Homo sapiens: one gene and its partners. The protein of the gene in region 4 interacts with the protein of the main gene of each other region in a pairwise test. Each region holds a gene or a part of one and is shown on either strand. Other genes may lie near its edges.

Region 1 (7,026 bases), on a different chromosome or scaffold from region 4:
TAACAAAACAAAACAGTGACTACCACTGTTCTCCACATGGTTTTGCCTATCTTGCTAAGTTTCCATGCCAAACCATTTTTTTTTAAAGGAAAGGTATTTATATCCCTTCTTAATAACTTAGTGTGAAACTCTAGGACATATTCTCTTAAAGACCTCTTCCTTACTAATAGACAAACACAAATCATTCTTAAAATTAAATATTGTTTTCTAGCTCTAGCATAAAAAAATAGTAGAGGCTGTAAGACAAAAGCTGACAAAACACAAAGCTTTCACAAACCATGGTTTATACAATACTTTATCTTACACTATTAACACTTTATTGAAAATATTTCTATTGAAAAGAACTCTGGAAACACATAAAAATATTTGGTAAGAAAACAAAAGCACATCTTTACTACCAGTGTGAATTACTACCTGACAATTATCAACTTCTCAAATAAGAACATTAACCTACTTGTGATTGAAGAAAGAATTATCCTGTCTATGGATGACATAAGCAACTTGGCCAGGACAGAACCAATGGATGAAACCACATATAAATCCAATTTGGCCAGTTAACTTATGTAAGTGAAATGAAACAGTTAACTTTATTCATTAATATGATCAAAACATTATCTTTACTTCCAAGATCTGCAAAAACTTAATTATCCAAATAATTTAAGTTTGGAATTTATATATTTTTCAATACATAAAGGGTAAGGAAACTCTTATACAGTAATGAGACGGAAAGAAAACAACAGCTTCCCGTGAAAAAGACCTAATGTAGTCAAATATAAAAATAAGTACAGTAGCCTCTTTTTTTTTTTTTTTTTTTTTGAGACGGAGTCTCACTCTGTCGCCTAGGTTGGAGTGCAATGGCGCAATCTCCACTCACTGCAACCTCTGCCTCCTGGGTTCAAGTGATTCTCCTGCCTCAGCCTCCTGAGTAGCTGAGATGACAGGCGTGTGCCACCATGCCTGGCTAATTTTTATTTTGTGTATTTAATAGAGATGGGGTTTCACCATGTTGGTCATGGCTGATCTTAAACTCCTGACCTCAGATGATCTGCCTGCCTCGGCCTCCCAAAGTGCTGGGCTTACAAGTGTGAGCCACCACACCTGGCTGACACCCAGCTGAAATGTAACCTCTTGATAACAGCCAAATCACTGTATTAGAAACATTTAAATTCCAGCTCTGAGGGTCAAGGGTGAGGCATTTAAAAGGTTCCTTTAAGTTAAACCAAATGGATGAATTTTAAAAGAACAAAAGCAATTTATGAACCTATGGGCATATCATTAAAAAAGAAAAAAATTATTAATAAATTCCAAAAGTTAAAAGGAGTTGGGAAAAAAACCTAACTAGAAAGAAAAAATTTTGGTTTCAATTAAGGGGGATTTTTTGGTCCATTTTATGTAAGAGCTTACTCTTTTTCCAAATGGGCATTTATTATTTGCACAGATACATAAAAATGATTCCCATTTTAAAAACCATAATAAAAATATACATTAACCACAGAAGTACTTACTCTAACTGGAAAGAAAATGAACATGGCTATTTTCAAAACAGTAATAAACACAAAAGGTCAACATACATAAATCATGACAAGTGTACATCTCATTTTTGACAAAAATAAGTTCCATTTTTACATTAATGCTTCATCATCAGGCTCCATATTACATCCTCTGACCTTATTTACATTTACTATGAAATTTCTATTAGCATGTGTCACTCAAAGGCACTCAATTCAGAGGGTAAAAAGTCCTGAGCTTAAGTAGGAAACAAAGTTCCCAACTAAAATTTGAACATAAATAATTCTAAAGATCAGAGAATATTAAAATGTTTAAAACTATAATATCTGGTACATAAATAATTCAAAACCTAATAATAAAGGTGTACAGACTGTCAAAGAAAAGACCATGTAAGGCAAGAAATATCCTTGGAATCAAACTGATTTTTCCCTCATTCAAGATCATTTGAAGGTGCAAAGCTAACTTTCACTGTTCTTAAACTCCTAGGAAAGTCAAATTAAAAAAAATAGCAATGACAATGCTTAAGTTTTAAAAAAAGTTTATCAGCTTAGTCTCCAAAACCAGGAAGAAAATATTTAATGATTAAAAACAAGTATGACCTGGAAAGATATTAGACTAAAAGGAGGAATCACAATGAGCAGGTGAAAATGTTAAAGGAAAGCTTTCAATACACCAACTGAAAAAGGCATTTCTAATTGGCCAACCAAATTATTCTTTTAGATTATTTTAGCCAAATAAAAAGAAATTTACAGATGGATAACTGAGGTCCACTAACATAAGGTAGAAACAAAGTTTAAGCTAAAAATTAAATCTATATTTTGTTGCAGATAAATGTGAGATTTACCTACAGCAATTTTCTATTGATGCTAAATTAAAAGCATGAATTGACATCGTTCTAACAGAAATGGTTTGACAGATATTTTCTTGGCTTTAAAATGTTCTTACGCATATGCATAGAAATGCAATGAGGATAAGAATAATCTTCTGTATTGTCTGTACAGTTCATAAGGCCTTTGTCATTGTTAGTCACCTTCGATGTGAATATCAGTAGGGCCATTAAATTAAAGCTGGCCTAAAAAGTTTTCAAAGTGCTACTGTTTCCAACTGATGAAATCTTCAGTTTTCTGGATTTTCTGGGTGACGATTATTTTCAATTCTTTTTTTCTGGTGATATATACAAGAAGTTACAGCAGATATATAAAGGGAAGATCAGAAGCCTGCTGTCCAAGTTCATCACCACTTGTTCCTATAAGACAGATTTGTAGATTCAATGACAATTAGATAAAATAAAAACAAAAAACCAAACTGTTGAACTGAGTGAACCAAAGGAGATAGTGTCCTGAGTCTGAGATCCACAACTCCACTCTCCAAACTCCCACCCATTAGCTGTGTGACCTTGTCAAATGCAGCTTCCTCACTGTAAGATGGGGACAGTAAGAGTACCTGACTTAAAGGAGGATTACAAGAGATAATACACAGGGGGTTTTGCAAAGCCAGCTATCTATTAAGTACTCAATAATGGTAGTTATTTTCATTATTGCAAAAATTTCTATCAAATACTTACATATTTTGTCAACAGATACAATGTCTAGAAATACATAAACTTCTCACTGGGCTTCAATTTTTAAAAAAATTTATTTCCTTTTACAAAATTAATTAATTATTTTTAAAAATGAGATAGGGTCTTTCTATATTGCCCAAGCTGGCCTTGAACTCCTGGGCTCAAGAGATCTTCCTGCCTCATCCTCCCGCCTCAGCCTCCTGAGTAGCTGGGACTACAGGCAGGTGCCACTGTGCCTGGCTACTTGGCTTCAATTACTGATGGCCGTTGGGTACAGCAAATCACCCAGATGAAGGTCGGGAGTCATTATCATCATCAAAAAGCAGGGTTCCTACTATTGACATTTCCCACTGTCCCTATGACAAACATGTAATTTGTCTCCTGAAACATAAAATACATTATCATGGAAAAGCAATTTCAGGTTCAGTTACATCAACACACACAAGAATGCTCAGAACTCCCAGAGACAGGAGCTGACACTACACAAATATAACATCCCTGATGCTACAGATCTCTGTTTGGAACCTCATATATCCTTTACTAGAAGCATTTGGTAAATAGAATCAATCCTCAGAGTAAAAGAAGAAACACTAAAATGAGAATTCCTACGTTTTAAATGCCTGGGATATGCTCTCTGCAATAGTATGCATTAGTTACACTTTATTTATTTTGGATAAGATACTATTAAACACTGTTTAAATCCAAAGTTTTAATTTTTTACTGAGACATGTATTCCTGCATGAAGAGGAACTAAAACTAGAATATCTGTGTGACTGAAGCAGACTCACTAGACACAGCTTCTGTGTTGAGGGAACAAGAAGATAAATTTGAATAAAGAAGGTAGAGAGTACAAATGTCTCACACACACACACACACACACACACACAAACACACAATCTCTCTCTCTGTACGAGGGAAAGTGGTATTATAAAAAGACATCAGTGAACAAAATCAGGGGAGGCCATCACCTAGACTGTGCTAACAAGTGTCACCAGAGAGGAATTATGCCAAAGCATGGTTGGTCTTCAGATGCTTGAGACATCCTGAACTAGTCAAAATTTATATCAATAATCTGGGTGAAGGCACATTTACCAAATTTGTTGAGGACAAATGTTTTGATGATATGTATATCTGATGATAAAAATCAAGATTCTGTTCCATAACTAAAAGGCTCTGAGGAAGATTAGCCTTCTAGTATTTGAATACAGTTAAGATTGAGGCAGGGAAGGGTAGGTCAAAGGGCCAACTCTGGAGAAAGAAGGAAGGCACGTGGATATCACTTGGCTGAATGGATACACCAATTTTTGAATATTAAATTGTATTAATCCCCACTCTCCATTCCCAAACAGGATAGGTCGATCCGAGCTTCATCAAATCTGTTGTTTCACCTAAAGGTTCAATCTGCATCTACATTTGCATTGAAGTACCTTTATAGCAAAGTTCTATTTTCCTTATTCCATTGTGGATGGAATCTGTGGAGCCCACATATAGCAGCAGCAGAGCAGCAGCAACTTCCTAGGTCCCCATTTCTACTTCCAGACAATTAAATAAATTTCTGGGTATTTGTTGTTGTTGGTAGTGTTTTTTGTCTGTCTGTTTTTGTTTTGAGACAGGGTCTGACTCTGTCACCCAGGCTGGAGTGCGGTGGCATGATCATGGCTCATTGCAGCCTCAGCCTCCCAGGCTCAAGTGATCTTCCTGCCTCAGCTTCCAAGTAGGTGGTACCACAGGCACATGCCACCACGCCCGGCTAATTTTTCAATTTTTTGTATAGATAGGGTTTTGCTAAGTTGCCAGGGCTGGTCTTGAACTCCTGGTCTCAAGCAATCCTCTGGCCTTGGTCTCCCAAAGTGCTGGGATTACAGGCATGAGCTACCACGCCAAGCCTGCAATTTGGCTTTGATTCTCCATCCCAGCTTTTCAATGTCTCACCAGGTTACCTTTTTTGTCCATCTCTTAAATACCAGTGGTCCCTAGGGTTCTATCCTGTCATATTCTCTACACATTTCCTGTACATTATCTCATCCAATTATTATTTCTAGTTCAGGCATTACTTGTAAACTCCAAATCCATTATTCACCAGCCTATCAAATTTTCACCTTGATGCTCTCAAATTAAACATGCCCTAAACAGAATTCATCATCTCTTCACCATCACCAACACTATGTCATGTTCATTTTCCTTCCTATAATTCAAATCTCAGGTAAAACCACTACTGTAAATTAAATTGCTCAAATCAGAAAACCATCTGACATTTCCTCATGCACACACACAATTAAGAATCAAATTCTCAATTGCACCACTTTATTTCCAGAACCCATCAATATTTTCCTCTTCATTGCTACATTCTTTAAGGTTCTTATCACTTTTAATCTGAATTATAGCTATATAATCATAAATTGTTTTATTGCCATTATCATATCTTTAATCCTTCCTACACATTGCTGTCTGACGGAACCTTCTATAGTGAAAATCCATTTAGCATGGTCTTATAAGATGGACAGTTACAAAATAAATATACAAAAATCACTAACTTTCTTACATTATCAAAAACTATTAGAACAAATGATTCATTTCATATTAGCAACTGAAATGTAAAATACTGGCTGGGTGCGGTGGCTTACACCTGTAACCCCAGCACTTTGGGAGCCTGAGGTGGGCGGATCACGAGGTCAGGAGATCGAGACCATCTTGGCCAACAGAGTGAAACCCTGTCTCTACTAAAATACAAAAAAGCTGGGCGTGGTGGCATGTGCCTATAATCCCAGCTACTTGGGAGGCTGAGGCAGGGGAATCGCTTGAACCCGGGAGGTGGAGGTTGCAGTGAGCTGAGATCACGCCACTGCATTCCAGCCTGGCGACAGAACAAGACTCCGTTTCAAAAAAAAAAAAAGAAATGTAAAATACTAAGTGTTATACTTCCAGGAAATACACAGGAACAATATGGGAAAAACTACAAATTTTAGAGACAGACATAAGGGAAGACCTACGTAAATGTAGAAAATACCATATTCCAGAAAGGAAGACATCAATGGTCCACAAACTACTCTACATATTTAATCATATAAATTAAAATCCCCATAGGAATTTTTGCAAGGAAACTTGATAAAATGATCCTACATCCCATACAGGAGAATAATCATGCACAAAGAACTGAGAGATTTTTGAAAAAAAGAAAAATGAAGGTGGTTTTGCGTAACTAAATATTAAAATGCATTTTAAAGTTAGCCTAATTAAAACAATGCCTTGTCTTCATAACAAAGAAATCAATAAAACAAAAAGTCCAGAAATGAAAGCAAGTTTATAAGTATTTCATGTACAATAAGGCATTTCAAATACATTGATACATCCAGTACATTTCAGATATATCGTCAAATACTCCAAAGTAAAAAATTAAGCCATAAAAAGAACAGAAGAATATATAGATGACTATTTATATAATCCTAGTAAGATGGAGGCCTAAGGATAACACCAAAAAAAAGAAATCATAAAAGAAAAAGATAGATTGTTTTGAAGGTTGAAAAGACAAATGACAAAAATGTAAAAACTGTTTGGGCCTGGTGGCTCATGCCTGTAATCCCAGCACTTTGGGAGGCGGAGGCAGGTGGATCACTTGAGCCTAGGAATTCCAGACAAGCCCAGGCAACGTGGCAAAACCTCGTCTCTATAAAAAAATACAAAAAAGTTAGCTGGGCATGGTGGTGCGAGCCTGTAGTCTCAGCTACTTGTGAGGCTGAGGTGCGTGGAAAGGTTGGGCCCAGGAGGTGGAAGCTGCAGTGAGCCAAGATTGTACCATTGCACTCCAGCCTGAGTGACAGAGTGACAACCTGTCTCGGAAAAAAAAAAAAAAGTAAAAACTATAGAGTATCACAAATGTATTTTTAATATATAAAAGCTGTTAAAAATTAGCAAGAAAAAAATGAAATTTTAATAAAAAATTAAACAGGAACAATATA
Region 2 (7,026 bases), on a different chromosome or scaffold from region 4:
ATCTAGCTGTATTTTGTATTTCTTAACCTACCTTTGGCTATCTCTTTCTTCCCCCTACCCTTTTCTGCTTCCAGTAAGCACTATTCTGCTCTCTCCTTCTATGAGATTGACTTTTTTAGCTTCTTCATATTCATGAGGACATGCAGTATTTATCTTTCTGTGTCTAGCTTATTTCACTTAAAATAATGTCCTCCAAGCTCATTCATGTTGCCGTGAATGACAGAAATTTGTTCTTTTTTACAACTAAATAATACTTCATTGGGATATATAGCACTTTTTTTAATCCATTCGCCTATTGATGGAAACTTAGGTAATTTCATATCTTGGCTATGTGTTGTGAGTAGTGCTGCAATAAACATGGGAATACAGATATCTCTTTAACATACTGATTTCCTTTCCTTTGGATATATACCCAGTAGTGGGATTGTTGGATCATACGGTAGTTCTATTTTTAATTTTTTGAGGAACCTTCAAACTGTTTTCCATAATGGGCATATATATGCATATATTCCAAATAACATATAAGAGTTTGTGTTTCACCAAATCCTTGTCAGCATTTTTTTTTTGTCTCCTTGGTAATAGCCATTCTAACTGGGGTGAGATTATATCTTCTTGCGGTTTTGATTTGCATTACCCTGATGATTAATGACATTGACCATTTTTTGTACCTACCTGTTGGCCATTTGTATGTCTTCTTTAGAGAGATGTCTATTCAGCTTATTTGTCTGCTTTCTAATGTGATTTTTTATTTGCTATTGAGCTCATTTTATATTATGAATATTAAACTCTTGTCAGATGAATAGTTTGCAAATACTTTCTCCTGTCCTGCAGGTTGTCTTTTTTCTCTGTTGACTGTTTCCTTTGCTGCGCAGAAGCTTTTTAGTTTGACATAATTTCATTTGTCTATTTTTGCTTTGGTTGTCTGTGCTATTGAGGTCTTATCCATGAAATTTTTGCTCACACCAATACCCTGAAGTATTTCCCCTATGTTTGCTTCTAGTTGCTTCATAGATTCAGGTCTTATATTTAAGTTTTTAATCCATTTTGAGTTGATTTTTACATGTTATGTGAGGTAGAAATACAGTTTCATTTTTCTGCATATGAATATTCAGTTTTCCCAGCATCATTTTTCAAAGAGACTGTTCCTTCCCCATTAAATGTTCTTGGCAGCTTTGTTGAAAATCATTTGGCTGTAAATATGTGAATTTATTTCTGGGTTCTCTATTATGCTCCATTGTTCTATGTCTCTATTCATATGCCAATATCATGCTATCCGGGTTACTATAGTTTTGAAATATATTTTGAAGTTCAAAATGTGATTTCTCCGGCTTTGTTCATTTTGCTCAGGATTGCTTTGGCTATTCAGGGTCTTTTGTGGTTTCATATAAATTGTAGGAGTTTTTTTCTGTTTCTGTGAAGAACATCACTGGTATTTTGATAACATTGCATTGAATTGGTAGATCACTTTTAGTAGTATTGTATTAATTTTTACAATATTAATGTCTACAATTCATGAACATGAGATATCTTTCCATTTTTTGTGTCTTCTTCAATTTTTTTTATCAGTGTTTTGCAGTTTTTATTGTAGAGATCTTTCACCTCCTTGGTTAAATATATTCCTACATGGCTTTTTTTGTAGCTATTATAAATGCAATTTGTTTCTTGATTTTTTTTCCACTAGTTTGTTTTTGGTGTATAGAAAAGCTACTGGTTTTTGTATTCTTTTTTTTTTTTTTTTTGTATCCTCCAACTTTACTGAATCTGTTTATCAGTTCTGAGATTTTTGGTGGAGCTTTTATGATTTTCTATATAGAAGCTCTTGTTATTTGCAAATGAGGACAATTTGACCTCCTTTTCAATTTAGATGCTCCTTATCTCTTTCTCTAGCCTAAGTGCTCTGCCTAGGGCTTCCAGTACTCTTTTGAATAAAAGTGAGATGATTGTCTTCCAAATCTTAGAAGAAAAGCTTTAAACTTTTCTCCATTCAGTGTGATATTGGCTGTGGGTTTGTCATACATGGCTTTAATTATGTGGAAGTACATTCCTTCTATACCTAACTTGTTGAGAATTTTTATCATGAGGGGATGTTGAATTTTTCTCAAATACATTTTCTCTATCTCTTGAGATGATCAAATTGTTTTTGCCCTTCATTTTGTTGATGTAATGTATCACATTTATTCATTTGTATATTACATCCCTGAGGTAAATCTTACCTACATGGTGAATAATCTCTTTAATGTGCTGCCAGATTGGTTCACAAGTATTTTGTTGAGGATTTTTGCATCTATGCTCATCATGTTCATTGGCTTATAGTTTTCTTTTTTTGTTGTTGCATCCTTGACTAGTTTTGGTATCAAGGTAACACTGGCCTCATAGAATGAGTTTTAAAGAATTCCCTTATCTTCAATTTCTGGAAGAATTTGAGGAGAATTTGTATTAGTTCTTCTATAAATCTTTGGTAGAATTCCAGAGTGAAGCTGTCATATTCTGAGCTTCTTTTTGATAAGAGACTTTTTATTACAGACTTAATGCCATTACTTGTAATTGGTCTGTTCAGGTGTTCTCTTTCTTGTTGGTTCACTTCTGATAGATTGTTTGTGTCCAGGAATTTACCTATTTCTGTCAGGTCTTCTAAAGTTTTTGGTATATAGCTGTTTATAATAGTCTCTGATAATTTTTTGTATTTCTATGGTATTAGTTGTAATGTCTCCTTTTCATTCCTGATTTTATTGGGACCTTTACGTTTTTCTTGGGTAGTCAAGCCAATGGAATGTTGATTTTGTTTATCTTTTCAAAAAAATTCAGCTTTCCATTTTGTTGATATTTTGTATTTTTTAGTCTTAATTTTATTTATGTATGCTTTTCTTTCTTTCCTTCTAATTTTGGGCTTGGTTTACTCTGCTTTTCTAGTTTCTTGAAGTGCATCATGAGCTTGTTTATTTGATATCTTTCTACTTTTTTGATATAGGTGTTTGTTGCTGCACACTTACCTTCTAATACTGCTTTTGCTATACCCCAGATGTTTTGGTATTTTGTGTTTCTATTTTCATTTGTTTGAAGATATTTTAAAATCTTCCTCTTAATTTCTTCATTGACTAATTTGTTATTCAGGAACATGTTGTATAATTTCTATGTATTTGTACAATTTTTAAAGTTCCTCGTTATTTTGATTTCTAGTTTTATTATATTGTGGTCAAAAATTGATATGATTTCTATTAAATTTGTTAAGATTTGTTTTGTGGTCTAACGTGGTCTATGCTAAAGAATGTTTCATTTTCTAATGAAAAGAATATGTATTTTGCAGCTGTTGAATGAAATGTTCTGTAAATGTCTGGTAGGTTCATTTGGTCTAAAGTGCAGTTTAAATTAAATGTTTCTTTGTTAATTTTCTGCCTGAATGATCTGTCCAATGCTGAGGGGTGTTGAAGTCCCCAGCTATAATTGTACTGAAATCTATTTCTCCTTTGGGTTTAATTATTTGCTTTATAAATCTGGATGTTGTGGTATTGGATGTGTGTATGTTTACAATTGTTACATCTTCTTGCTGAAGTGAAAATAACCTTGTCTCTTTTTGTTTAAAGTCTGCTTTACCTGATATAAGTATAGCTATTCTCCCTTGCTTTTGGTTTCCATTTGTATGGATTTTTTTTCCATCCCTTATTTTTATTCTATATGTGTCTTTTTAGGTGAAGTGAGTTTCTTTTAGGCAGCATATACTTAGGTCTTTTTTTTTTTTAATTCATTCAGCTAGTCTATATCTTTTCAGTTGGGAATTTAGTCTGTTTACAGCCAAGGTTATTATTGATAAGTGAGGACTTAACATCCACCATTTTGTTGTTTTCCTGTTGTCTTGTATATCTTTTGTTCCTTTCTTTTTCTCTTATAGTTAATCATTGTGGTTTGGTGGTTTTCTGTAGTGACAAGGTTTGATTCTTTTCTCTTTCTCCTCATATATCTGCTCTACCAATGAGCTTTATACTTTTGGTGTGTTTTCATGACAGTGATTTTCACTTCCAGATGTAAGTGAAAATCACTTAAGCATTTCTGGTAAGGCCAGGTGAGTGGTGACAAATTCCTTCAGTTTTTGCTTACCTCGAGAAGGCTTTATTTCTTCCTAATTTCTGAAGGATAACTTTGCTGGGTATAGTATTCTTAGCTAGCAATTTTTTTTCTTCTTTCACCATTTTGAGTTTATAACTCTATTCTCTCCTCGCCTGTGAGGTTTCTGTAGCAAAATTTACTAGTCTAATGCAGTTCTCTTATGTGACTTGACAATTTTCTCTTGCTGTTTTTAGAACTCTCTGTCTTTGACTTGTGACAATTTGCCTATAATGTACCTCTAAGAGGACCTTTTTGGGGTTGAATCTATTTGGGGAATTTTGAGTTTCCTGGAGCTGGATGTTCAAATATCCCTCCTCCACAACCCCCACCACTAAATTGGGAAGTTTTCAGTTATTATTTTATTAAACAGGCTTTCTATACTTTTTCCTTATCTTCTCCTTCTGGAAATTCCATAATACAAATATCTGTTTGTTTAATGTTTTCCAATAAGTCTTATAGGAATTCTTCACTCATTTTCATTCTTATTTCTTTTTTCTTTTCTCTGACTGGGTAACTTCAAAAGACCTAGCTTTAAGTTCAGAGATTCTTTTTTCTGCTTGATCAAGTCTGCTGCTGAAGCTCTCTATTGTATTTTATATTTTATTCATTGAATTCTTCAACTGCAGGATTCTTGTTTTGTTCTTTTTATGATTTTTATCTCTTTATTGAATTTTTCATTTATATTGTGAATTTTTTTCTTATTTTATTTAATTGTGTATCTGTGTTTCCTTGTATCTAATTGAGTTTCCTTACAATCATTATTTTACATTTTTTTGGCAATTAATTGATTTCCTTTTAATTGGAGTCTGTTACTAGAGAGTTATTATATTCCTTTGTTGGTCTCTTATTTCCTTGCTTTTTCATGTTTCTTGTGTCCCTGCATTGATGTCTGTGTATCTAGTGAAATAATCACCTTTTTCAAACTTTCTGGAGTGATTTTCATAAAGAAAGTCTTTCATCCTGCAGTTGAGTTTTACTGTGCAGTTAGAAAAGGTGTAGTGACTCTGTTTCCAGATAGGTATAGAGATAGAGTCTCTGTGCAGCTTCTTCAGTTGTATTCAAGGTCAGGAATAACTGTGGGTGCCTCATAGCCTACGCTTAGAGGTTTGTGGCAATGGCACTGGCAACATAAGTTTTTAATGTTCTTTGTGTTAAGGGCTTCTGGGGTCCTCCTATTCTGGTTTTCTCTAAAATAAGGAGACTTAGCTGAGCGCATCCCTTTTGGTGTCAAGTCTGACATGGCCTACAAGCAGCTGCAGTGGCATGGGTTCTACGTGCAGTGATCAGGATTCTACATGCAGTAGGAGTTTTCAGCTCAGTATCTCATAAAGCTATTGAGGCAACTGGGCTTGGGGTGCAGCTTCACCCCTTGTGGCAGGGTTGGATGTAGGTTACCCATAGAGCCAGGATCTATGATTCTGAGGGACCCCCTAGCAGCTCAGGCTCAGGGTGCCAGGTTGTAGCTGTGATTCTACCCCTGGGGGGCAGGGCACAGCACTGGCCTGACTCCAGGGAATAAGGAGTGCTCTGGAACTTTGGCCTTGGGAGCAGGGTATGGCTGCAATTCAGAAACCTGAGTCAATAGGGCTCAGTGTCAACTCAGGTTCCAAGGGATGAGGCACTGGGTAGTAGTGATTGTAGACCCTGGGATAGTGGTGCTCAGCAGTATCCCAGAATGTGTGGGGCCAAGTGTATTTGCTTTCAGTACTCCAGAATGGTGGAGGACAGCTGTTGTTTGTTCCCTGGGTGACAGGTGGGTAGGAAAAAACACAGCAATGACTCCACTCCCTAGATAGAGGGGTACTTCTGCATCTGAGACTCTAGAGAGCTAGGCCAGTGCTGGGGAATCGAAGTCTAAAATTGTTCAGTTTATAGAGCAAGGTGTCTCAGCTCAGTTTCTGCTCAGCTCAGCCAGAGCACTAATTCCCCAAGGGACAATGTGCCACTTCAGCTCAGGCTTGAAGGATGTGACTGTTCTGGGCTGCACAAGCACTGTTTTCTTGGGATGCGGGGCATCAGTTCAGCTTAAGTAATGGAGTGCATGACTGCTCTGGATGGCCAAGGCACAATTTCCTAGGATGCAGGGCACCACTTCAACTTAGACACCAGGGAGACATGACTGCTCTGAATAGCCAAGGTACTGTTTTCCCAAGAGACAGGATGCTGCTTCAGCAGGGGCAGGGGGAGGAGTTGGTAGAGCAATTCCACCTCCACTTGACCCCACAGGAAAAAGTGTTAACAGCTGTTAACAGCACATATTGGGGATGTGGGGCTCTGGGGATGGGGTGGTTCAGGGGTGGTTTAGTCTCAGGGATGAAGGGGAGCCATGACTACTTACTCCTTGAGTAAGGCTCAGTCTAGCTGTAGTTCCTGTTCCAAGATGCCATAGCCAATAGTCACATGGGCCACAGCAGGTGGGGCACAGTGTCAACTCCTTCTCTGGCTAAGCACAGCTATATAGACTCCAGGCAGCTTCACCATGTGGGCTTGGTGCCTAAGAAGACTGCAGAGAACACCAGTGGGAAGGTCTGTTGGTGTCCAGGGTGTTGATGGAGATTGTTGGAGTCATCCTGCTTACCTCCTCACCATAAGAAGTTCCTCCTGGCTTCCAGCTGATCCCACTTGGGGGATGGGATGGTGAAGGCCTGGCATTTCCTTATTCTCTATGTAGCCATCCTGAGTTTTTGTGCTCACCCAAGTTTCTATTAGTTTTAAAATGCAGCTGCTTTTCCATTGTTCTGGCTGTCTTTGACAGAGGCATAAGCACTAGGGGCTTCTAGTTGGCTATCTTGCTGCTATCTCTCTGACCTTTAATACTTTTAGAAAGAAGATTAACCGTTCTCCTGATCAAGGTATCAAACTATTTATTATCTTTGACAGTACCAAAAAGTCATACATACATGTAATTCATTCATTCATATTTTC
Region 3 (7,026 bases), on a different chromosome or scaffold from region 4:
AGTGTTCAATAGTGAAGTAAGCAGATTTTACACTCACTATCACTGCATGGATAGAAAGAGCCATATACATTTTTGTTTTTATAAGTCATCTCAGATCACTGCAACATGGCACATTAGAACAGAGATTCAGAGACACAAAGTTAATAAATACATTTAACATTGCCAAGCATTTAAAAGATAAATGCACTCATGTAGCAAAAAAAAAAAAATCAGTTTGTAACTTTGACCTTTCTCAGGGATGTGAAGAATCATTTCAGGTGTCAGAAATCTCTGTAGCAAAGATTCCTATAAGAGAAAAAATCATGCTGATTAATATTTTTAATTCAACTTTTTCAACATGTGTAACAAATTTATTCTAGTAAGTGTATCACTTCAGCAAAACGTAAGATTTTTCTTCATTTCTATGAAGGAAAACAAAAAACAATATATTTTTTCACTCAGTTTTCACAAACTGGTACATTCATACCATGGAATACTATTCAACAATAAATAGGAATGAACTATTGATACTTACAGCAGCTTGGATGGATCTCACGGGCATTATGCTGAATGAGAAAAGTTAATCTGAAAAGGTTATCTCAAAACGACAGAATTATAGAGATGGCGAAGAAAGTAGTGTTTCCCAGGAGACAGGGAGATGAAGAAGGTCAGGGCTACAACTATAAATAGGCATAATGAGGGAGTGAATTCTTTGGTGCTGATGGAACAACTTCACATCTTGATCATAGTTGTGCTGTGTGTGGATTGTAAAAAATATATATATACACATACAAACAAATGAGTGCATCTAAAAACTAGTGAAATCTGAATAAGGCCTTTAGACTAGTTAATCACACTGTGCTAATGTCAATATCCCAGTTTGTAAGATACTCCATTATAGAAGCTGGGGTAAGGATATGTGGGACTGTCTGTGGTATTTTTGCAACTACTTGTGAGACTATAATCATTCTATTTTTATTTTTTAATTACTATTTTTTGGAGACAGAGTCTCACTCTGTCACCCAGGCTGAAGTGCAGTGACATGATCTCAGCTTACTGCAACCTCTGCCCCCAGGTTCAAGCAAATCTCATGCCTCAGCCGCCTGAGTAGCTGGGATTACAGACATGCGCCACCACGCCCAGCTAATGTTTGTATTTTTAGTAGAGATGGGGTTTTGCCACGTTGGCCAGGCTGGTCTCAAACTCCTGGCCTCAAATGATCCTCCCACCTCAGCCTCCTAAAGTTCTGGGATTATAGTCAGGAGCCACTGTGTATGGCCAAGACTATAATCATTAAAAAAAAGTACCTGTGGTACATCTATACTATGGAATACTACTCAGCAGTTAAAAGGAATATGTGACAACTACTAATACATGCAACAACCTGGATAAATCTGAAATATATTATGCTGGGTGAAAGTCAACCACTAGAGGCTGCATACTGTATGATTCCATTTACATGACAACCTGGGAAAGGCAAAACTAGAGAGGCAGGAAACAGAGCAGTGGTTAGAGGAAAGTAAATTCAATGTGATGTCTGTTGTCTAGATAATAGGTGTCAGTCAAAGGACACCATTTGAAACTGAGAGTAAAAGATTAAGTGAGAAAAAAGGTGATTAAGGGCATTGTTAATCATATTAATAGAAAGGTAACAACTAAAATAAAATAAACTTTCATAAAAGCCAAAAGAAATTTGTTAAAAAGCAAAGAAGACTGATCAAATGAAGAAATACAACAAATATCACATAGTACAGAAAGTAATTATAACTATTGATGTGACATAACAGTCATATCAATAATGTAAAAGATTTTAACTCATCTATTTTATTTATACTGTTCTATTCTATTTTTGAGACAGGGTCTCATTCTGTTGCCCAGGCTAGAATGCAGTGGCATGATTATGGCTTACTGAAGCCATGACCTTCCAGGCTCAGTTGATCCTCTCACCTCAGCCTACCAAGTAGCTAGAAATACAGGCACGTGCCACCATATCTGGCTAATTTTTTTTGTGTGTGTATTTTTTGTAGAGATGGGGTTTCACCATTGCCCAGGCTGGTCTGTAACTCCTAGGCTCAAGCGATCTGTCTGCCTCAGTCTCCCAAAGTGCTAGGATTACACGTGTGAGCAACCACGCCCAGTGTAATTCACCTATTTTTTAAAAAGATTTTCAAAATGGCAGGGTGTGGTGGCTCATGCCTGTAATCCTAGCACTTTGGGAGGCTGAGGCGAGTGGATTACCTGAGGTCAGGAGTTTGAGACCAGCCTGGTCAACATGGTGAAACCCTGTCTCTACTAAAAATACAAAAACTAGGCCAGGTGTGGTGGCTCATGCCTGTAATCCCAGCACCTTGGGAGGCCAAGGCAGGTGGATCACCTGAGGTCAGGAGTTCGAGACCACCCTGCCCAACATGGCAAACCCCGTCTCTACTGAAAAAAAAAAAAAATGAGCTGGATGTAGTGATGGACACCTGTAATCTCACCTACTCAGGGAGGCTGAGGCAGGAGAATCACTTGAACCTGGGAGGTGGAGGTTGCAGGGAGCTGAGATCCTGCCATTGCACTCCAGTCTGGGGGACAAGAGTGAAACTCTGACTTAAAAAAAAAAAAAAAAAAGGGGATCGTTCCAAGATGGTCGAATAGGAAGAGCTGCAGTCCACAGCTCCCAGCGTAAGCGACACAGAAGATGGGTGATTTCTGCATTTCCAAGTGAGGTACCAGGTTCATCTCACTGGGACTTGTTGGACAGTGGGTGCAGCCCACAGAGTGTGAGCCAAAGCAGGGCAGGGCATCGCCTCACCTGGGAAGCGCAAGGGGTCGGGGAATTCCCTTTCCTAGTGCTCGGGACACTCCCACTCTACTACTGTGCTTTTCCAGTGGTCTTTGCAAACAGCACACCAGGAGATTATATCCCATGCATGGCTCGGTGGGTCCCACACCCATGGACCCTGCTTACTGCTAGCACAGCAGTCCGAGATCGAACTGCGAGGTGGCAGCAAGGCTGGGAGAGGGGCATCCACCATTGCTGAGGCTTGATTTGGTAAACAAGGCAGCCTGGAAGCTCGAACCGGGTGGAGCCCACCACAGCTCAATGAGGTCTGCCTATCTCTGTAGACTTCACCTCTGGGGACAGGGCATAGCTGAACAAAAGGCAGCAGAAACTTCTGCAGACTTAAACGTCCCTGTCTGACAGCTTTGAAGAGAGCAGTGGTTCTCCCAGCATGGAGTTTGAGATCTGAGAACGGACAGACTGCCTCCTCAAGTGAGTCCCTGACCCCCTAGTAGCCTAACTCAGGGACACCTCCCAGTAGGGGCAAACTGACACCTCATACAGCCAGGTGCCCCTCTGAGATGAAGCTTCCAGAGGAAGGATCAGGCAGCAATATTTGCTGTTCTGCAGCCTCCGCTGGTGATACCGAGGCAAACAGGATCTGGAGTGGACCTCCAGCAAACTCCAACAGACCTGCAGCTGAGGGTCCTGACTGTTAGAAGGAAAACTAACAAACAGAAAGGAATAGCATCAACATCAACAAAAAGGACACCCACACCAAAACCCCATCTGTAGGTCACCAACATCAAAGACCGAAGGTAGATTAAAACCACAAAGATGGGGAGAAACCAGAGCAGAAAAGCTGAAAATTCCAAAAATCAGAGTGTCTCTTCTCCTCCAAAGGAACACAGCTCCCCACCAGCAACAGAACAAAACTGGACAGAGAATGACTTTAACGAGTTGACAGAAGTAGACTTCAGAGGATCAGTAATAACAAACTTCTCCAAGCTAAAGGAGGACGTTTGAACCCATCGCAAAGAAGCTAAAAACCTTGGAAAAAGATTAGACGAATGGCTAACTAGAATAAACAGCATAGAGAAGACCTTAAATGACCTGACGGAGCTAAAAACCATGGCGCGAAAACTACATGACGCATGCACAAGCTTCAGTAGCCAATTCAATCAAGTGGAAGAAAAGGTATCAGTGATTGAAGATCAAATGAATGAAATGAAGCAAGAAGAGAAGTTTAGAGAAAAAAGAATAAAAAGAAACGAACAAAGCCTCCAAGAAATATGGGACTATGTGAAAAGACCATATCTACATCTGATTGGTGTACCTGAAAGTGACGGGGAGAATGGAACCAAGTTGGAAAACACTCTGCGGGATATTATCCAGGAGAACTTCCCCAATCTAGCAAGGCAGGCCGACATTCAAATTCAGGAAATACAGAGAACGCTACAAAGATACTCCTCGAGAAGAGCAACTCCAAGACACATAATTGTCAGATTCACCGAAGTTGAAATGAAGGGAAAATATTAAGGGCAGCCAGAAAGAAAGGTCCGGTTACCCACAAGGGGAAGCCCATCAGACTAACAGCAGATCTCTTGGCAGAAACTCCACAAGCCAGAAGACAGTGGGGGCCAATATTCAACATTCTTAAAGAAAAGAATTTTCAACCCAGAATTTCATATCCAGCCAAACTAAGCTTCGTAAGTGAAGGAGAAATAAAATACTTTACAGACAAACAGATGCTGAGAGATGTTGTCACCACCAGGCCTGCCCTAAAAGAGCTCCTGAAGGAAGCACTAAACATGGAAAGGAACAACTGGTACCAGCCACTGCAAAAACATGCCAAATTGTAAAGACCATCGAGGCTAAGAAGAAACTACATCAACTAACGAGCAAAATAACCAGCTAACAACATAATGACAGGATCAAATTCACACATAACAATATTAACCTTAAACGTAAATGGGCTAAATACTCCAATTAAAAGACACAGACTGGCAAATTGGATAAAGAGTCAAGACCCATCAGTGTGCTGTATTCAGGAGACCCACCTCACATGCAGAGACACACATAGGCTCAAAATAAAGGGATGGAGGAAGGTCTAACAAGCAAATGGAAAACAACAACAACAAAAAGCAGGGGTTACAATCCTAGTCTCTGATAAAACAAACTTTTTTTTTTTTTTTGAGAAAGAGTCTCACTCTGTCGCCCAGGCTGGAGTGCAGTGGTGCGATCTTGGCTCACTGCAACCTCCACCTCCCAGGTTCAAGCAATTCTCTGCCTCAGCCTTCTGAGTAGCTGAGATTATAGGCAAGTGCCACCATGCCCGGCTAATTTTTGTATTTTTAGTAGAGACAGGGTTTCACCATCTTGGCCAGGCTGGTCTTGAACTCCTGACCTCGTGATCCACCTGCCTCGGCCTCCCAAAGTGCTGGGATTATAGGCGTAAGCTACCGTGCCTGGCCTAAAACAGACTTTAAACCAACAAAGATCAAAAGAGACAAAGAAGGCCATTACATAATGGTAAAGGGATCAATTCAACAAGAAGAGCTAACTATCCTAAATATCTATGCACCCAATCAATACAGGAGCACCCAGATTCATAAAGCAAGTCCTTAGAGATGTACAAAGAGACTTAGACTCCCACAAAATAATAATGGGGGACTTTAACACCCCACTGTCAACATTAGACAGATCAACGAGAAAGAAACTTAACAAGGATATCCAGGACTTGAACTCAGCTCTGCACCAAGTGGACCTAATAGACATCTACAGAACTCTCCAACCCAAATAAAAAGAATATACATTCTTCTCAGCACCACATCACACTTATTCCAAAATTGACCACATAGTTGGAAGTAAAGCACTCCTTAGCAAATGTGAAAGAACATAAATTATAACAAACTGTCTCTCTGACCATAGTGCAATCAATCAAATTAGAACTCAGGATTAAGAAACTGACTCAGAACTGCACAACTACATGGAAAGTGAACAACCTGCTCCTGAATGACTGCTGGGTAAATAACGAGATGAAGGCAGAAAGATGTTCTTTGAAACTAATGAGAACAAAGACACAACATACCAGAATATCTGGGACACATTTAAAGCAGTGTGTAGAGGGAAATTTATAGCATTAAATGCCCACAAGAGAAAGCAGGAAAGATCTAAAATCGACACTTTAACATCACAATTAAAAGAACTATAGAAGCAAGAGCAAACACATTCAAAAGCTAGCAGAAGACAAATAACTAAGATCAGAGCAGAACTGAAGGAAATAGAGACATAAAAAACCCTTCAAAAAATCAATGAATCCAGGAGCTGGTTTTTTGAAAAGATCAACAAAATTGACACACCACTAGCAAGACTAATAAAGAAGAAAAGAGAGAAGAATCAAATAGATGCAATAAAAAATGATAAAGGGGATATCACCACTGATCCCACGGAAATGCAAACAACCATCAGAGAATACTTTAAACACCTCTATGCAAATAAACTAGAAAATCTAGAAGAAATGGATAAATTCCTGGACACATACACCCTCCCAAGACTAAACCAGGAAGAAGTTGAATCTCTGAATAGACCAATAACAGGCTCTGAAATTGAGGCAATAATTAATAGCTTACCAACCAAAAAAAGTCCAGGACTAGACAGATTCACAGCCGAATTCTACCAGAGGTACAAAGAGGAGCTGGTACCATTCCTTCTGAAACTATTCCAATCAATAGAAAAAGAGGGAATCCAGATGCAATAAAAAATGATAAAGGGGATGTCACCACCGATCTCACAGAAATACAAACTACCATCAGAGAATACTACAAACACCTCTACGCAAATAAACTAGAAAATCTAGAAGAAATGGATAAATTCCTCAACACATACACGCTCTCAAGACTAAACCAGGAAGAAGTTGAATCTCTGAATAGACCAATAACAGGCTCTGAAACTGTGGCAATAATAAATAGCTTACCAACCAAAAAAAGTCCAGAACCAGATGGATTCACAGCCGAATTCTACCAGAGGTACAAGAAGGAGCTGGTACCATTCCATCTGAAACTATTCCAATCAATAGAAAAAGAGGGAATCCTCCCTAACTCATTTTATGAGGCCAGCATCATCCTGATACCAAAGGCTGGCAGAGACACAACAAAAAAAGAGAATTTTAGACCAATATCCTTGATGAACACTGATGCAAAACTCCTCAATAAAATACTCACAAACCAAATCCAGCAGCACATCAAAAAGCTTATCCACCATCATCAAGTGGGCTTCAT
Region 4 (7,654 bases):
CACATTATAGGTTTTTATCTTTAGAAGTTTGATTTGGGTCTTTTTTATATGTTTCATTTCTCCACCAAACTTTTAGATGTATCAGATATGGTTGTAATAACTTTTAAATGTCATTGCCTACTAATTCTGTTGTGACTATTTCAGAAGTCTATCAGGATTAGTTTTTAATGTAATTTCTTGGATTATGAATTACTGGTCCAAGTAGATAGTATTAATTTAAACTCTATACTTAATGATGCAAACTATGATTATAAATTTTTAGAAGACATTTCTACTACCACTTCAAAGCTTAGGCAAGGACCATAAGATTCTTTGTTATCTCTCTTTGTTCATGAGATTTTTAAAAAATTTATCCTTTCATGATTGGATGAGTGTATGTGTGTGAGAAAAGTCTCTGTTCCTATTCCTTGTTCCTGTAATATGCCTCCTGCATATTATAATTCTGCTTTCTCAGATATCAAGACTTACAACTCTTCACCATTCCCACCCCTGTTGGCCAAAGCATCAGCTGAGGTCCTCAGTCCAAACCAATGCCTCTGGTTTTAGTTTCTTGTTTGGTTTTGGTACGTGGGTACACTTTCCTGTGAGTTAAGTATTTAAAATGATGTCGAATATTATATCTTATTCTAAATTTCTAGATTCTAGTTTATATTATTTGCTACATTGCCCTCAACTGAATTCTGCGTAATATTTATTGTCTTAAACTTATTGTTGTGAGATATTAATATAGCTGTGCCATTTTCCCTTTCCCTTAATACTTGTCTGATATATCTATTTTCCATTCTTTGACTTTCAATACTTGTGCTTTCTTAAGTTTCAGTAGTACCTTATAAGCATCTAACATTTTCTTTCCTTCCTTCCTTCCTTTCTTTCTCTTTCTTTCTCTTTCTCTCTCTCTTTCTTTCTTTCTCTCTCCTTCTCTCTCTCTTTTTTTTTTTGACGGAGTCTCATTCTGTCACCCAGGCTGGAGTGCAGTGGCATGATCTTGGCTCACTACAACCTCCGCCTCTCGGGTTCAAGCAATTCTCCTGCCCCAGCTTCCCCAGTAGCTGGGATTACAGGTGTGCGCCACCACGCTGGGCTAATTTTTGTATTTTTAGTAAAGACAAGGTTTCACCATGTTGGCCAGGCTGGTCTTGAACTCCTGAGCTCAGGTGATCTGTCCACGTTGGCCTCTCAAAGTGCTGGGATTATAGGCATGAGGCACTGTCCAGTCACTTCTAACATTTTTTCTGCGTAAATTTTAGAATCATTTTCACAAGTTTTAAAACAAATCCTATAGGGGTTTTATTTGGTATGACGTTGGACTTATGGATTAAATAAAGAAAACTACCCTTCCTACTGAAGGATTACCTGTGCCTTTCCATTTACACAAGGGGTTTTCATTGGTTTAGTCCCCAAATGTTTAAAATTTTCTTGATATATGTCTTATACATTTATTAGTAAACTTATTCCTATATATGTTTGGTTGCTTTGAGAATAAGACCTTGCCCTACCCTAGTACATTTCTCCACATAGATTAAATGATTTATTCACAGAACTCACAACATCAATAAGTAGGTAAAAATTTTGTAGCCTGAAAACAGCCTTGAACTCCTGGAATGAACATCAACCAGACAGTTGTTTTGCCACAGTTTTCATGAGAAGAAGCAGGCAAAGCCATCTTTACTCTGTCCTATTAAAACTGGAAACAACAAGAAATATTTTTTCTTTTTTGAGACGGAGTTTCGCTCTTGTCGCCCAGGCTGGAGTGCAATGGCGCTATCTCAGCCCACCACAACTTCCGCCTCCTGGGTTCAGGCGATTCTCTGGCCTCAGCCTCCCGAGTAGCTGGGAATACAGGCATGCGCCACCACGCCTGGCTAATTTTGTATTTTTAGTAGAGACAGAGTTTCTCCACGTTAGTCAGGCTGGTCTCGAACTCCCAACCTCAGGTAACTCCCCCCACCTCAGCCTGCCAAAGTGCTGGGATTCCAGGTGTGAGCCACCACGCCTGGCCAACAAAAAAGATTTTTTTTAACATGAGAAGATTGTCAGCTTTCCCTGGTGGTCAGAGAGGAAGGGCTTTAGAGAGGTCTTGGGGCTGCAGGGACAAAGGGTGCAGGAGAAGAAGCCTTAGAGCTGAGCAGGAGGAAACTGACACTACATGGCTGCAGGCCCAGCATGGAAATGAACTTCTAGAATGCTGTAGTCGAAGAGCCAGCTTAATTTTTTAACTCTTGTGTTGTGTGATTTTTCCATCCTTCCTCATTTCTAGGGGTATTAGTTAGGCTATGGGCTTGGAAATTAATTTGAAGAACCCAAATAAATGTGGTTTAAATTTGATGAAAGTTTATTTCTCTCTCATGTATCATCAGAAAGTAAGCCATCTGGGGCTGATATAGCAGCTCTGTGCCTCCTCCTTTTAGTTGCTCTGTCATCCCCAGCAGCCACACCCTTATTCACATGGTCCAAGATGCTCTGATGCTCTCCCTTGTCAACATTCCACCTGGTCGATGAAGGTTTGGGGGCAGGGAGGGCATGTCCCTTGTCTTTAAGGACACAGCATCACATTTTCTTACAGCCTGTTTGCCAGAAGTTGGTCACATGGACACACTTTGCCTTAAAGAATGCTGGGAAATGTGTGCTTTTTCCCTGAGCTGTCATGTCCCTTGCTAGAGATTCTGTAACCTTATAAGAATGGAAGAACAGGGGCTGACAGACAAGAACTGATCTCCATCTCTCCAGACCTACCATAGAGCTTTTGAAACTTGGTTTGTGCATTATTATCTCATTTTTCTGATATGTCTGAAGTAGGAGTAGGAGCTTTGTGGTTATTTAGAGAGCTTTATTTTCTCAACTGTAAAATTAGGCAATGGGTTTATGATGCAAACATTTGGGGCCAGCATTTATGTGATCTGATTCCTTCCTATTTCTTTCAACAAGTCCTCACTCCTGATTTCTGACCCTAGAAAGAAGTGAAAACCAGAACTTATTGACAAGAGCAACGTAATCCCCAGCTATTACTCTGCCCAATCATTTTCTTAATGAACTCATTTTGGAAAACAGTGAAGATCAGGGTCAGGGCAAGGCAGAGAAGGGCACCTGGCCATGGTCACTGTCAAGGTCCAAGGCATAAGACATATCCTACCCTTGGGGACACACAAAGTAGGCTTCTGCCTAAGAGTTAGGGCTGGAGCCTTTGGACCATTGTCAACAACAAATGTTTATTGCTCTCCTTCTTTCTGCCAGTTATTCTCTAGCTGAGGATGATGATGTTGAACAAGATAGATACAGTGTCTGTTCCCTGCAGCCACCAGAGAAGACAGACATATAAATAAACTATCACCATTAAGTAAGTACACAGTGCTGTGATGGCACATAAATGAGTGTCCTGCCTTATTCTGGGTGATGAGGGAAGGCTTGCTTCCCATGCAAAATGGGATTTGAGCTCACACTTCCAGTAACAGTCAAGATGGAGGGTAGGAATGGGAAGGGAAGGGCATTCTAGATTTAGAGAACAGCATTTTTAGCATGTAGGGCTGAGGTAGAGTCAGGGAATGAATGGGAGTGATAAGAAGCCACAGAGGCAAGTGGGAGCCAAATACCAGTCTCCAGTGCAGCAGCGTTGGATGGATCAGAGCTGGAAGGAAGAAAAGCCCACATTACCAGGGTTAGGGGGTGTGTGAGGGGGTGGGGATTTTAAGGGTCGTCCAATCCAGTGGCATTTAGTACTGTCTCCCTTCCCCCAGGGCTCATTTTGGAATTTTATGGTAGGTATTTTGTTATATTTGGTGTCAGTGGTAACATTGCTACTAGCGTTGTGGATAGGAGCCAGGATCCTGCAATGTACAGGACAGTCCTGCCCACTGAAAAAATGTTCACACTTTCAAATGTCTTGCTGAACATTCAGGTAGGTGAAAATTCTATTTCTAAATTATCTGAATCTAAACCTGTTTTCTGGATAAACATGTATTTTTGCACAGTTTTAACATACACTGATCTTCCAGGAATGTAATTATTGTATAATCAAGAGACGATTGTCCTGTGTTTCATTCAGAACTTCACGAAAACATGTTTGCCATTTTGGATCATAATTTTGTGACTTTTGCAACAATGTAAGTCACAGCTTTGTGGCTGTGGCACTCAGACAACGTCTATGTGTAAAGGCGACCACCTTATTAGGTCTCCTGCAGCAGCCAAGACCAAACACATTGAAGTATGTGTTTTTAAACGACAGATGACGGTCCTCTTTTTTTTCTCTTTCATTACACTTAAGGCATAACATTAGTTTTTAATATGTAGGTGTGTATGTTATGTATGATTTTCTAGGCCATTATATATGAATATCAGGTCAGGAGAATAAGATGGACATTACAAACTATTTGTTAGAAAAAGGGGGCATTGGGTGTGACAGCGCGCCATCCACTGGTCCATTTCCAAGACTCCCACACGTGGCTGCACCTGCAGCTTCACCTCCCCGGGCTGGGTCCCCGCTTGGCTCTGATTCTTACCTGCCCCATTCCCCAGGGGTAACAGTCACCGTGGGCCAGACCCGAGCTAGCCGACAGGGATGCGGCCACAGCTGGCCGGGCGTGACCACCACCGAGGCGCAGCGACCTTGCTCCTAGAGAGGCCCGGCCGCCTGGTGACGCACTTCCGGCAGCGCCGGGGAGCAGTCCGCTACGGAGGTGAGTGCAGGGCTCCGGGCGCTGTGTGCCGTGCCCTGTCCCCCAGGCTCTGGGTCCGGTTGAGACGCACTCCCACCCTGGGTGCTGCAGGGTCTCCCGTGGCCTACGCTGCCAGGAGGCCCAGGCTGGGAGAGGGAGCAGGGCGGCGGCCCGGGGTGCTCTTCCGCGCTCCTCGACTCCAGCTTTGGTCTTTGTGGCTCAATAGCTTGCGCCCATTGGAAGGGGAAACGCACGTTGCTGTCCCAGCCACGAGGCCCTGAGCATTTAGCACTTGGTCGACGGGGGAAGATGTGTCGGTGCAGCTAAAAGATGGAATATTTGCGGGCGTGAAGCGGCCCGAGGTGATACCACAAGTCTTTTGACATGCTGAGGTCTGGCAGGAACATTAACCTATGTGCATCCCGAGTATGGACCGTGTGCTCCCAGGCTCCTGACATAGGGTCATGAATTAGGGCCGAGTGGGAGCGCAGAGCCCCTCCCAGTCACCCGGCAGCAGAAGCAGCCCGGCTTTTGGAGGACATTGTCTCCTGGAGCAGTGTCAGTCCCAAAAGGTAACTCAGCCCTGCTTCTCTCGGCTCAGGGTTGACAGTGACCTGGGAATGACTTCTACAACGTAATTACGAATTCACTCAGTTTTAGAATATATTTAGTAGTCTCAGAATCGCTAATTCATACCCCCATGAAAAGCAAATTTACTACCTAAAGTACAGTACTTGGATACAGGTCTTTTTGTCTTTACTCTTATGGTATTTAGTCAAAATACTGTTTTCCAAAGTTGCTTACCCCTTTTCTTTCCTACCACTTAAGTGTGGTTATGTTCACTGTAGTATAGTTAAGCACATTGGCTGTTCTTTGTATTACATTTTGGGTCCTCAATTTCACCCCATCCTTGCTGGTTTATATATTTATTTAAAATATATATTTATATGTTACATATATAGTAGTAAACATCCATGAACACACCACCCAATTAAGAAAGAGAAGATTGCCAGTACTGCTGAATTTATCAATGTGTTCCTCCTCCTCAACCCAACTCCCAGCCTCCAACCCCTAGAGGTAACAGTTATATTGACTTTTGTGTTAATTGTAGCCCTGTTATTTTAAAAAATAATTACATATGCATGTATCTGTAAGCAATGTACTTAAATTTTTTTTTTGAGCTTCATATAAATGGCACCATTGTGTGTATAAGTCATCTGGGACTCGCATAATTCAATGTTAAGTTTCCAAATTCATTCTGTGTGTAGCTTCTGGGTAATGTTCCATTGTAAAAACTGTATGAAAATTTATCGATGTATTTTCAATGGACATGTGGGTTGTTTTCAGTGTTTTGTTATTAAAATGTGCTGATAATATTTTTGTACGTACTTCCTACATATGAGAGTTTCTCTAGTGTGTAAGTTTTTAAAATTAGGCACAAATGTTGAATTATGTTAAACATCTTTGGCATCTGTTGAGATGGACAGTGTGTTTATCTTTCTTTGATTTATTAATGTGAAAAATATACTAATTAGTATCTTCGTGGGATAATCCTACTTACTCATGATGTATTTAATGAACTATTGGAGTCTATTCCTTGATAGAATTTTTGCATTAGAATTCATAAATGAGACTGGTCTGTAGTTTTTGCATCAGTATTGTGCTGGCACCATAAAAAGAATTGGGAAACTTACTTTGCTGTGCTCTGCTACGGTTTACATAGTGTTAGAATTACTCATTTCCGAAACATTGAAAGAATTTGCTCATGACACATCTGAGCTCAGTGTTTTGTGAGAGTTAGTTCTTCACTGGCCATCTTGGTTTAATTAGGTAAAAGTAATCAAGGATTATGTAGAAAATCTATATAATGTCATAACAGGAAAAAACCTGGAATCGTATTTAAAAAAAAAAACTATCCCCTTGGGAGGGAGCCAAGAGACCAAAGAATGCCTTGGACGAGTCCAGCTTGGCAAGTAGATGAGTTTATTAGGACTTACATACTTACTCCTGGATGGCAGCAGGACAGCTTTAGAGACCTGTGATGCCCCTCGTCTCTAAGTACTTTTTAGAGAATTTTCTGGCTGTTTGCCTACTGCATTTAAACGATGAGACTTTTCTTGGTAGGTTCTCATATACTTTCTAGGATGTTTACGTTCTTGCAAACACCTGCTCCTCTGCTGAGCCCCATGGTCTTGACTCACTGCCCGGTCTTCAAGGTTCAGGCAGCAGGTATACACCCTTGACTAGCTGAGCGGGGTAGCTATCACACTACATATGTAATTGGTAGAGTTGGTTTATTATCTAAAAATGGAGTTGTATATTCTCCCATCACAGAATAAGTTTTCTCTTTAAACACCAGATAATATATTTTTTTAAATGGACATGAGTCACAAAAAAACCCTGAAAAATGTGTAAAGTAGAAGTTAGTAGATTGGGTTATATAACCATCATGCAATAAAGCCAGAACTTATAAACAGAAGAAATTAGCAACAGTAAACTATCCTAAGCAATTACTAGGTCAGAGACAAAACAGAATTGCTGACTGACTATAAAACAGTAATTAAAACATGAAATATAAAAACCTCTGGAATGTGGCAAATAGTGTATCCCAAGGAAAATTTGTGGCCTTATAGGCTTTAATTGCCAAATAGGAAGAATGAAAATAAATGAATAAGTCATGCAACCTCAAGAAGGTGGGAAAAAAGCCTTTTGTAGTCTAAGCTTCCCCAAAAGCAGAACGTGGAACAAAGATTTGTATGTAGGAATTTATTTAGGAATATGGTCACAGGGGCAGAGTGAAAGACAAGGGGAGTGAAACAGAGATGGGAGAACTGGTACAAGGATGCATTGGTATGCTCGGCCCTCAACAGGCTCTGCCTTGCAGGGCGTTTGAGGAGCCTTGGAGTCTTAAGGCTGCCCCGCTGGGGGATCGACGGGGAAAACATTTATCCATTGGTTTCTCTCCCCTATTGGTCAAGGGGGTCCCACAGGTGTTAATGCCTCTG

Evidence for each region.
Region 1: the proteins of ZNF23 (region 4) and GMCL1 interact in binary tests that used the Homo sapiens proteins (3 or more experiments, as listed by UniProt).
Region 2: the proteins of ZNF23 (region 4) and FHL5 interact in binary tests that used the Homo sapiens proteins (3 or more experiments, as listed by UniProt).
Region 3: the proteins of ZNF23 (region 4) and TSGA10 interact in binary tests that used the Homo sapiens proteins (3 or more experiments, as listed by UniProt).

Annotation. Positions count from the first base shown.
Region 1 is NC_000002.12:69,874,638-69,881,663, reverse strand, and holds the end of GMCL1 (germ cell-less protein-like 1), read right to left. Parts: intron 2,756-7,026; coding exon 2,660-2,755; 3' UTR 280-2,659; downstream 1-279. UniProt on the Homo sapiens protein: Possible function in spermatogenesis. Enhances the degradation of MDM2 and increases the amount of p53 probably by modulating the nucleocytoplasmic transport.
Region 2 is NC_000006.12:96,566,104-96,573,129, forward strand, and holds part of FHL5 (four and a half LIM domains protein 5), read left to right. Parts: intron 1-7,026. UniProt on the Homo sapiens protein: May be involved in the regulation of spermatogenesis. Stimulates CREM transcriptional activity in a phosphorylation-independent manner.
Region 3 is NC_000002.12:98,997,937-99,004,962, forward strand, and holds part of TSGA10 (testis-specific gene 10 protein), read right to left. Parts: intron 286-7,026; coding exon 261-285; 3' UTR 1-260. UniProt on the Homo sapiens protein: Plays a role in spermatogenesis. When overexpressed, prevents nuclear localization of HIF1A.
Region 4 is NC_000016.10:71,459,226-71,466,879, reverse strand, and holds the start of ZNF23 (zinc finger protein 23), read left to right. Parts: upstream 1-4,632; 5' UTR 4,633-4,670; exon of another isoform or gene 4,671-5,221; intron 5,222-5,611; exon of another isoform or gene 5,612-5,726; intron 5,727-7,654. UniProt on the Homo sapiens protein: May be involved in transcriptional regulation. May have a role in embryonic development.